Linked DNA regions of Homo sapiens: region 1 is linked to region 2. Evidence: fine-mapped expression QTL. A gene starts in region 2. The other region holds a variant in brackets. All regions are shown on one strand. Distances are between the middles of the regions. Region 1 has its middle 32 kb from the start of S100A6. Region 2 holds the start of S100A3 (S100 calcium binding protein A3).

Region 1 (4,383 bases), 46 kb before region 2:
TGAAGTAATTTACTTCAAGAAGAGAACATGATTCTTTACTTCAAGAAGAGAATATTAGGGACCTTTGTATATCTAGGGATATTTTTCTGGTGTCCTCACAGATGGCTAGCTGCTTAATTATGTTTATGCAATTCTGAGGCACAACCTTTTCTTTCCTCAAAAACTGAAGATTTTGCTTATTTGTAACTTCTAAGAAATATGAGATTCACTTGAATTGCTCTTTTATAGGCAATCTTTTTATTTTCCTTTGAGCAATACTTTTGCCTGAGAGTGTCTAGGCATATCTGTGTTTTTATACATTTTGCCTGGGTTGCAGAGAGCCCTTTTGGTCTACACAAAATCTATGTGGTAGATGCTACAGCTCTAGAGAAAGTTGGCATTTGTTGTGGCTATTTACCTGCTGTCCATGCCTGTTGTGACTGACATCCAGCAATGTTGATGGACACTGTTAGGAGCTACTCTTATTGTAACAATGAGGGTGCCATGCACCACTCCCAGTATTCTCTTTCTTCTCTCTTACGTCTACTTTCTGCCCAATGATCCTTTATTCTCTTGTTAGATACAGAAATATTGGGAAGACCAAGGAAGAGCTCAGGGCTCTGGCTGCCTTATAGTGATAGGCAGATAGGAAGGCAAACACTAACATTAAATTAAATTAAATTAAATTAAATTAAATTAAATTAAATTAAATTAAATTAAAATATAAAATAAAATAAGCCCTACAAGGAGTTGTCTGTTTGGTAGTAACCCTATGTAGCCAGGAAGCTCCATCTTGCCCAAGTTGGGGCAGGGGATGGAAGACTACCCCTTCCATGCACCACCACCTCCCTCGGTTTCCAGGCCCCACCACCCATGTGGGCCTTTGGTGGGTGGGATGGGAGGCTCAGTGAAGTGTCCAGGCCCTATGTTCCTCCTGCTGGCACTGATCAGTGCTGGGAGGGCCATCTCAGGGCTAGAACTGTTCTGTGAGCTCAGTGCTCTCAGCTCCTGCCCCCACCAGTCGTCCCATATGGATTGGCTGGGGTCATGGTAGGAAGCTTAGGGAACGCTTACATATGCTTCCAAATCTTTATTATCTTGCACCTCTACCCTGGCTTTTTAAAATGCAAGCACCAGGACGGGCACAGTGGCTCACATCTGTAATCTCAGCACTTTGGGAGGCCGAGGCAGGTGGATCATGAGGTCAGGAGTTCGAGACCAGCCTGGCCAACATGGTGAAACCCCGTCTCTACTAAAAATACAAAAATTAGCTGGGTGTGGTGGTGCGCACCTGCAATCCCAGCTACTCGGGAGGTTGAGGCAGAAGAATCGCTTGAACCTGGGAGGCAGAGGTTGCAGTGAGCCGAGATCATGCCACTGAACACCAGCCTGGATGACAGAGTGAGTCAGCTCCGTCTCAAAAATTTAAAAAAAAAAAAAATTCAAGCACCAAAAGTGTGACACCTGTTTTTTCTGGTTCTTCACTAACCGCATTCACTAAAGCTGCCAGTGACGCTGGTCCAGCTGCCTGGATGCAGGACGGGCTCCAGAAACCATTCAGTGAAGCCTGGTTGGGAGAGAAAACACAAAGGGATCCCCACACCCTGTCTCTGGGCCCTCCCAGGAGCAGACCCTGTAGGACAGCAGTTCTCAAAATGTGGTCCCCAGAACGGCAGCAACAACGGCACCTGGGATCTTACTAGAAATACAGAGTCTCAGGCCACCACAGACCTGCTTGTGTTAGGACCTCTGGGATAGGGGCCCAGAGATCTGTGTTCTAACAAGCCCTCCGGTGATCCCA[G/A]TGCCCACTCAAGTGTGCAAATTACTGCGCAGTTACCAGGTGTCCTCCCACACTTTCACGGGCTGTAGAAACTAGTCTAAGAGAGAACGGAGCGCAGAGCACTGACCCAGGGTCTTCATATTTCCTTGTGCTTGCTGTTTGTTGGGCTGGGTAGTGTAGACATTTTGCCTTACTCCCTACCTTCAGGAGCCATTTCACAAGAATATGATGGTGTCACGGTCTGTGGGCCAGGTGCCTTTTAAATTGGAAGCTCTCTTTTAAGACTCAAGGCAGCTTTATAGGATAGATAATTGTATCCCATTGCTATGGCTTGAATATTTGGCCTCCCTAAAACTCATGTTGAAATTTAATCTTCAGTGTGGCAGTACTGGGAGATGAGGCCTGCAAAAGGTGATTGGGTCATGAGGTCCCTAGCCCCACGAATCCACTAATCCATTCATTCATGGATAAATGGATTAACGGATTAATGGGTGATCATGGGAGTGGGATTGGTGGCTTTATAAGAGGAGGAAGAGAGACCTGAGCCAGCGCACTCAGCCCCAGCACCACTTGATGCTCTGTGCTGCCTCAGAACTCTGCAGGGAGTCCCCACCAGCAAGAAGACCCTCACCAGATGCAGCCCCTTGACCCTGGACTTCTCAGTCTCCAAAACTGTAAGAAATAAATTCCTTTTCTTTATAAATTACCCAGTTTCAGGTATTCTGAAGCACCAAAAAACAGACTAAAACACTAGTTTTTCAGCTGATGAAACTAAGTCTCACAGAAGTTAGCTGCTCTTTCTAAGTCAAAGTCTAACTCCCTGCTGCCTTCTGCAATGCCATACTGCCTCACAGTGGCACTGCCATCTCAGCCTGGCACCAGATCACCTGGGTTTGCAACTCAGCCCTGGCACCAGCCCTGAGGCATGGCCACAGCTTTTCACTTCCCTGAGCCTCTGTTTCCTTACCTGCAAAATAGGGGTAAACCCAACCTGCCCAACCCACCTACCTCCCAGAGTCATTTGCAGGGCCAAGTGGGAAAAATGATCTTAATACAGTATTAATCTTTCCATTTCCCCAGGTGTGTGTGTGTTGGTGGAAAGCAGTGGTACAAGTGTGGGCAGAGGACAGTGACTCGAATAGTGAGGCAGAGGAGAGTCACCAAGGGTACATGTTGCTATGACATAGTGTCAACGTGGGGGCTTCTGAAGGGATGTCTTAGTGTTTTAGATATTTTGAGGGGAAAAACTCCTCTACTAAGACTCACTTCAGAGAAAAAGAGAAGCTGACCAGGTGTGGTGGCTCACACCTGTAATCCCAGCACTTTGGGAGGCCGAGGTTTGTGGACATCACCTGAGGTCAGGACTTCAAGACCAGCCTGGCCAATATGGTGAAACCCCATCTCTACTAAAAATACAAAAATTAGCCAGGCATGGTGGTGTGAGCCTGTAATCCCAGCTATTCAGGAGGCTGAGACAGGAGAATCATTTGAACCCGGGAGGCAGAGGTTGCAGTGAGCCAAGATTACACCACTACACTCCAGCCTGGACGACAGAGTGAGACTCCATCCAAAAAAAAAAAAGAAAGAGAGAGAGAGAGAGGGAAGAGACAGAGAGGGAGAGAGAGAGGGAAGGAAGGAAGGAGAAAAAAGGAAAGAAAGGAAGAAAGAAAAAGAAAGAAAGGAAGAAAAGAAAGAGAGAGAAAGAAAGAAAGAGAAAGAGAGAGAGAAAGAAAGAAGAAAGAAAGAAAGAAAGAAAGAAAGAAAGAAAGAAAGAAAGAAAGAAAGAAAAGAAAGAAAGAAAGAAAGAAAGAAAGAAAGAAAGAAAAGAAAGAAGGAAAGAGAAAGAGAGAGAAGCTGGGTGCAATGATGCACATCTATAGTCCCAGCTTCTCAGGAGGCTGAGCTGGGAGGATCACCTGAGCACAAGAGTTCAAGACTGTATTGTGCTATGATCTCACCTATGGCTAGGCACTGTACTTCAGCCTAGGCAATACAGCAAGACCCTGTCCCTAAAAAAGAAAAATAAAATAAGAGAAAAGAGTTCACAGCACTGGATCATACAGGGGTAAATGCCAAAACTCATATAATGTCCCCTGGCTTCTAGATGCCATTGATGCTCCATCTCTCTTTCTTGGGAGATCTTGCACTCTCTTGCATGCTAGGAGGGCTTCTGTGTGAGACACAACTTTGGTCATTCACTGGTAGCAATCCAAAGGAGAGAGGACATTCTTTCCCTCACATCCTTCCCCCAGGAAGAGGCCATGATTGGCCCAATTTAGTGTAGTGCCCACCTCTTCAATAATCATTGTGGCCAGAGTGACATCATCACAAGAGCTAGATTTGAGGCTTGGAAAAAAGAGCCCTCTGATGGGTCATTTGTGTAAAGTTGGTACTTGTTGCAAAAGACCCAGAGAATGCCATTTCCTCAGAACATTCCAGAGGATGTCAGCCTGGGGGCTGTTTGCTGAACAGGCCCCCAAGTTTCCCCTCACGTTCTCAACTTTGTCTTATTGAAATTCCAGCATACCTACCTGACATGGTGTATTAGTCCGTTTTCATGCTGCTGACAAAGACATACCCAAGACTGGGAAGAAAAAGAGGTTTAATTGGACTTACAGTTCCAC
Region 2 (4,383 bases):
TTCCCGCAGTGGAAAAGGCCAGAGAGGAGCAAAGAGCTCAGGAGACGCGTCCTCAGAGAAGAACCAAACAAAACCAAGCTGATGCCAGTTTTTTATTAGGAGTTAAATAGGCCCTTTCCCATCGTGGTCTCATTGGTGCACGCTCTGCTGAGCCTCGAGGGCCTCAGAGCAGATCCCGCCTCCTCCCATCCACAAGGGAGGCCACAGGGGTGCGGCAGGCAGGCTGGGCCCCAGAGTGGCTCTACCCCTCATTCGCTGGGCATCCTGAGGAAGGAGCCCTCACATCTCTGGGCCTCCTAGGTAAAATGGGTTAACTGATCGCAGAAGACCTGGGCAAGTCCAGATTGAAAGGGGTACAGGAGAGAGGGTAGGAGGGGGTGTGGGAGACATGCCCAGCCCCCGACAGCCAGCGCACCCCCTGGAGCAGAGGCTACTGGGAGCAGGGGGGCTCTGAGGGGCAGTCCTTGAAGTACTCGTGGCAGTAGAGACAGAGGCAGGCAAGTGAGCGCACATACTCCACAAAGTCCACCTCGCAGTCCTTGTTGGTGTCCAGAACACTCATGAATTTGTTGTAGTCACATTCCCGAAACTCAGTCTGTGCAAGGGAAGGGTTGGGAGAGGTAAGGGAGTAGGATGAGGAGGGCAGAACAGCCTCACACGCCACCTCCCTCCTTCCTCTCCCAAGTGGACCCACCCCACCCCAAACTACACCCTTCTGAGGGCCGACTTCAACCTCCCTGCTCTGATAATGCACTCGTTGCAATCCCCTCCCAAATCTGTCCTCTCAGATTATTAATCGAGCACCTACTATTTGCTACTGAGTGCCTACCAAGTGTTAGGCATTCTTCATGGTGCTCTCACTCAGTCCTCTCAACAGCTCTGCAAGGCAGCAGGGATGATTGTCATCCCATTTTACAGATGAGGAAGCTGAGGTTTCTGCTGTGTCAGTTCTCCCCCTCCCACTCCCTCCTCACAATCCAGCCCCCTCCCTTGCTGTCCTGTGCTCATGCTTGTTGTCCCCAGGTCTCTCTTTGCAGAGTCTAGGCAGTGCCTCCCCCCGGAGGAGGAGGGGACGGACACTCTGACTGCTCACCGGGGTCCAGGTGGCCAGCTCCTTCTGCAGCAGCTCCTTGAGCTCCGCCTGGCAGAGCTTGTATTTGTCCCCACAGCGCCCTGCGTATTCCTGGAAGGTGCACACGATGGCAGCTACCGCCTGCTCCAGAGGCCTGGCCATCCTCACTGTCACAGAACAAGGGTGTGGCTCACAGCAGAGTTCCAGGCCAGCCCCCCAGCTCACCTCTGCCCTCTGTGTTTCTCAGAGACTGTTCCCAGACCCATCTTAACCTCCATCAGGCTTCAGGCCCCGCAGTCTCCCCCTCCTCTGAGTAGCCCTCCCAGACCACACCAGCCCCTCCTAATTTATCCCCCTGCTGTCCTGTTGTTATTTCCCCATGTAGAGGTCTCATTGCCCCAACATCGCTGTAAACTCCTCAGAGAGACAGCATCCTACCCCACCACCCACACACCCCACCGTGGGGCTCCTTAAGCACTCTCAGATTATCTGCCACCTCTTCTTATCCCCAACACCCAGGGATGGCTCGGTCCCAGTCTGCCCCAGCCCATGAGATGCCCTAGAAGCCTCCCTCCCTGCAGGAACTTGCACAAGGAGAGCCTGGCCCTGTGCTTCTCTGCCCTCAGCCCTTGGAGAAGCTAGGCCTTAGCAGGGAGGGGCAGGTCTGAGAGGCGCCCCCACAGCCTCACCACCACTGCCCTCACCCTGCCTCCTGCCCTGAACTCGAGGAAGCTGCACCCAGAAGAAAAACTTGTGGGATCCTCTCTGCCTGTCGCCAGCTGTGCAACCTTGGTGAGCCATTTGTCTCTCTGGGTCTCAGGGGCGGGGCCTGATCTGTAAGTTGGGGTTCATCTCACCTCGCTGGCCCAGTCAGGAACCTGAACCAGATGGTCTCTTGAGAGTTGACCAGTTCGGGTGTTTACCAATCTGAGACTGGCCTCCCCTGAGGTTACCCTCCCGACCCCTGGGGGTTTTGAGCAGGGAGGTTCTGTATAGGGATACTCTGTTCTATTGGAGGGGAAGCCCTTCCTGGAATTGCTCACCTCCCCCCACTTCCACTGTCCCCTTCCACCGCCCTTCTGGGATGATGCCTCCAGCCTGGGAAAACCCGAAGGCAGCCAGGAAGGCAAGAGTTTTTTCCATGCTAGCCCAGTGACTCACTCCTGATTCCCCCACGGGACAAGAGTCCTGCAGCACAGGGCGGCCAGGGCCAAGACTCTCCCTGAAGATTTGCCCACTGCTGGGCCCCCTGCTGGGAGCAAATGGCTGGCATGGTTGTGGCTGGCAGGAAAGTAGGGGAAGGGGAGTGGGGAGTGCCAAGCACTGCCAGGATTTAATTCATTGTAAACACCCCAGGATTAGAGCAAGGTGTCCAGGTTCCCAGGAGAGGAAAGGGCCATGATCCTCAGAAATGAGGAGACTCAGAGGTGAAGCAAGGAGGCAAGGAGCAGGTGAGGGGCCTGATCAAGGGGAAGACCAGAGCCTTGAGCCCAGTGCTCCCACCCCAAGGCAGACCTTAGCTCTACACACCTCCCTGCCCAAACTTCCCCAACAGCCCCTCACTGTGTAAGGAAACCTCTGCGTCCACTATATCTGACTTCCCTCCCCGTGTCAGGCCCGCCTGTGGTCATCTCTCTGCTTCCAATGCCAGACCCTGGGTCAGGAGTCAGGCTGGCTACTGGGGGTCCCCAAACTGCCCTGACACTCAACCCAGGGCAGGACCCAAGCAGCTGGCACTCACCACTGGTGCTGGCGTTTCAGCTGTAGGAGCTTAGAGACAGGGCGTCACTATTTGTAGCCTCCCAAGAAAGGAAGGAAGCAATTATGGGGGACACAAGTAGGTCAACACTGAGGATGCCCTCAGGGATCCCTCAGCAGACCCATTACAGGCCCCACCTGCCCACCTATCCACGCACACATCAAAGGCCAGTCTGGGCTCAGACACCACTCCCCTTTCATTCCCCATCTGCCCTCCCCCAGAGTTGGGAACAGGGGACAGTCTCCTGCCAAGTCCTTCCAGCTCAGTTGGAGGAGACAGTCTGGCTTATCCATCACATCACAGCCCCATCTCTTCACTCTGCAGAGGCCCCCAGAATACCAAGTGGGGACACACTTCTGCCTCGCTCAGGTTGCACCCCTACAAATCTCTATTCCGGGTAGAACTTGGAGAGCACGTGGCTAAGCCTCCCCTTTACAGACGAGAAGTCTGAACTTGCCTGACCAGATCCCAGCTTTTGGCTGTGAACTGCTTGCTTCCCAGGGGGGAAATCATCAGGTGGGATGTCTTTGAGGCACAGGAAGGAGGTGTGTTCCTCCCAGGGGCACTTCCAGAGTCTAAGCTTGAGATTTCTGGCCCTTCCACCCCAGGTGATGGGAATGAATTTGGGCTAGAGTCACATGAAGGCTGGCCAGTGGCTGGAGCTCCTTAAGGGCTGTTTTCCTTCTTCCCCTGCTCTGCTCAGCACCAAAACAACTTTCCTTGAAGTCTTGTGGGTGGCAGGATGGGATTTCCTCTGGCTTTTAGCTTGAGTGTGTAGCCTTTTGGGGTCTCAGCATCATGGGAGGGTCATCCATTTGTGTCCCCTCTTGGGGTGAGAACTGGGCTTCCACTTCTGTCTTCCTCACTCCCCAAACCATCAGGATCAAAGCTCAGGTTCGGCTTGGCTTGGCCAATGACCTCAGGGCACGGGGGGCCCCAGTACAGATTCTGCTTTGACTTAGATTTTGGCCTACTCATTTCTTACTGCCTTGTGGTCTCTTCAATGCTTTGAAAAGATTTAATTCTATGCAGCATTTGTTGTTGTTTTTAAGCTGAAGTGGGCACAGACCACCATATTACCAGAAACAGACATACTTTCATGTAACTTCTCTATTCTCTCCCTCACACCAGAGCCTGAGAAACTCCTCCCTGTTTTATAGGAAGAGAACCCAAAACCTAGAAGAGCGTGAGAGGGAAAAGAGGAAGGAGATTGACTCCCAGGCCGGCAAAGAAGCCTTCCTGCCCGTGCAGGCAGCCAGAGCGCCAGTGACACCTTCGACCTCGCCCTCGGCCCCCAGCACCCAAGCCTTGCCTGTGCCGTCCTCTCCTTGGAGACTCAGCCCTGTTGAGGAGGGGAGTGAGCAATAGAGGAGGGAAGGAAAAGAGGAGCTGTGATTAGCCCTGTTTTATAATGGGCTACATAGCCCTGTTTTATATGGGCTTTTTAATGGAAGTATGGGGAGCAGGGGGCAGAGAACAAGAGACAGTCACGCAGCAGAAGGGGGGGCCAGAGTGCACCAGCAATTAATTCAGCTCTAGGTCGAGCTTAATT

Evidence for each region. PIP is the estimated chance that this variant, and not a neighbour inherited with it, causes the effect. A credible set is the group of variants that fine-mapping cannot tell apart.
Region 1: its variant is the best candidate, but not a certain one, in a credible set for the expression of S100A3 in esophagus mucosa (GTEx, PIP 0.78).

What each region holds. Positions count from the first base shown.
Region 1 is chr1:153,501,716-153,506,098 of GRCh38, forward strand. No RefSeq gene overlaps it. Among named protein-coding and RNA genes, the nearest start is that of S100A6, 32 kb to the right of the region's middle. The variant G/A (reference allele first, on the strand shown) is at 1,781.
Region 2 is chr1:153,547,252-153,551,634 of GRCh38, forward strand. It overlaps S100A3 (S100 calcium binding protein A3), which reads right to left and starts at 2,007. Exons shown (of 3, transcript NM_002960.2): 1 at 1,930-2,007; 2 at 1,094-1,239; 3 at 78-595. The coding sequence starts at 1,234. The coding sequence ends at 431. It overlaps LOC101928034 (a long non-coding RNA gene), which reads left to right. Exons shown (of 3, transcript NR_125947.1): 2 at 1,170-1,864; 3 at 3,992-4,383. RefSeq lists enhancers at 1,534-2,095, 2,659-3,220 and a silencer at 2,062-2,356.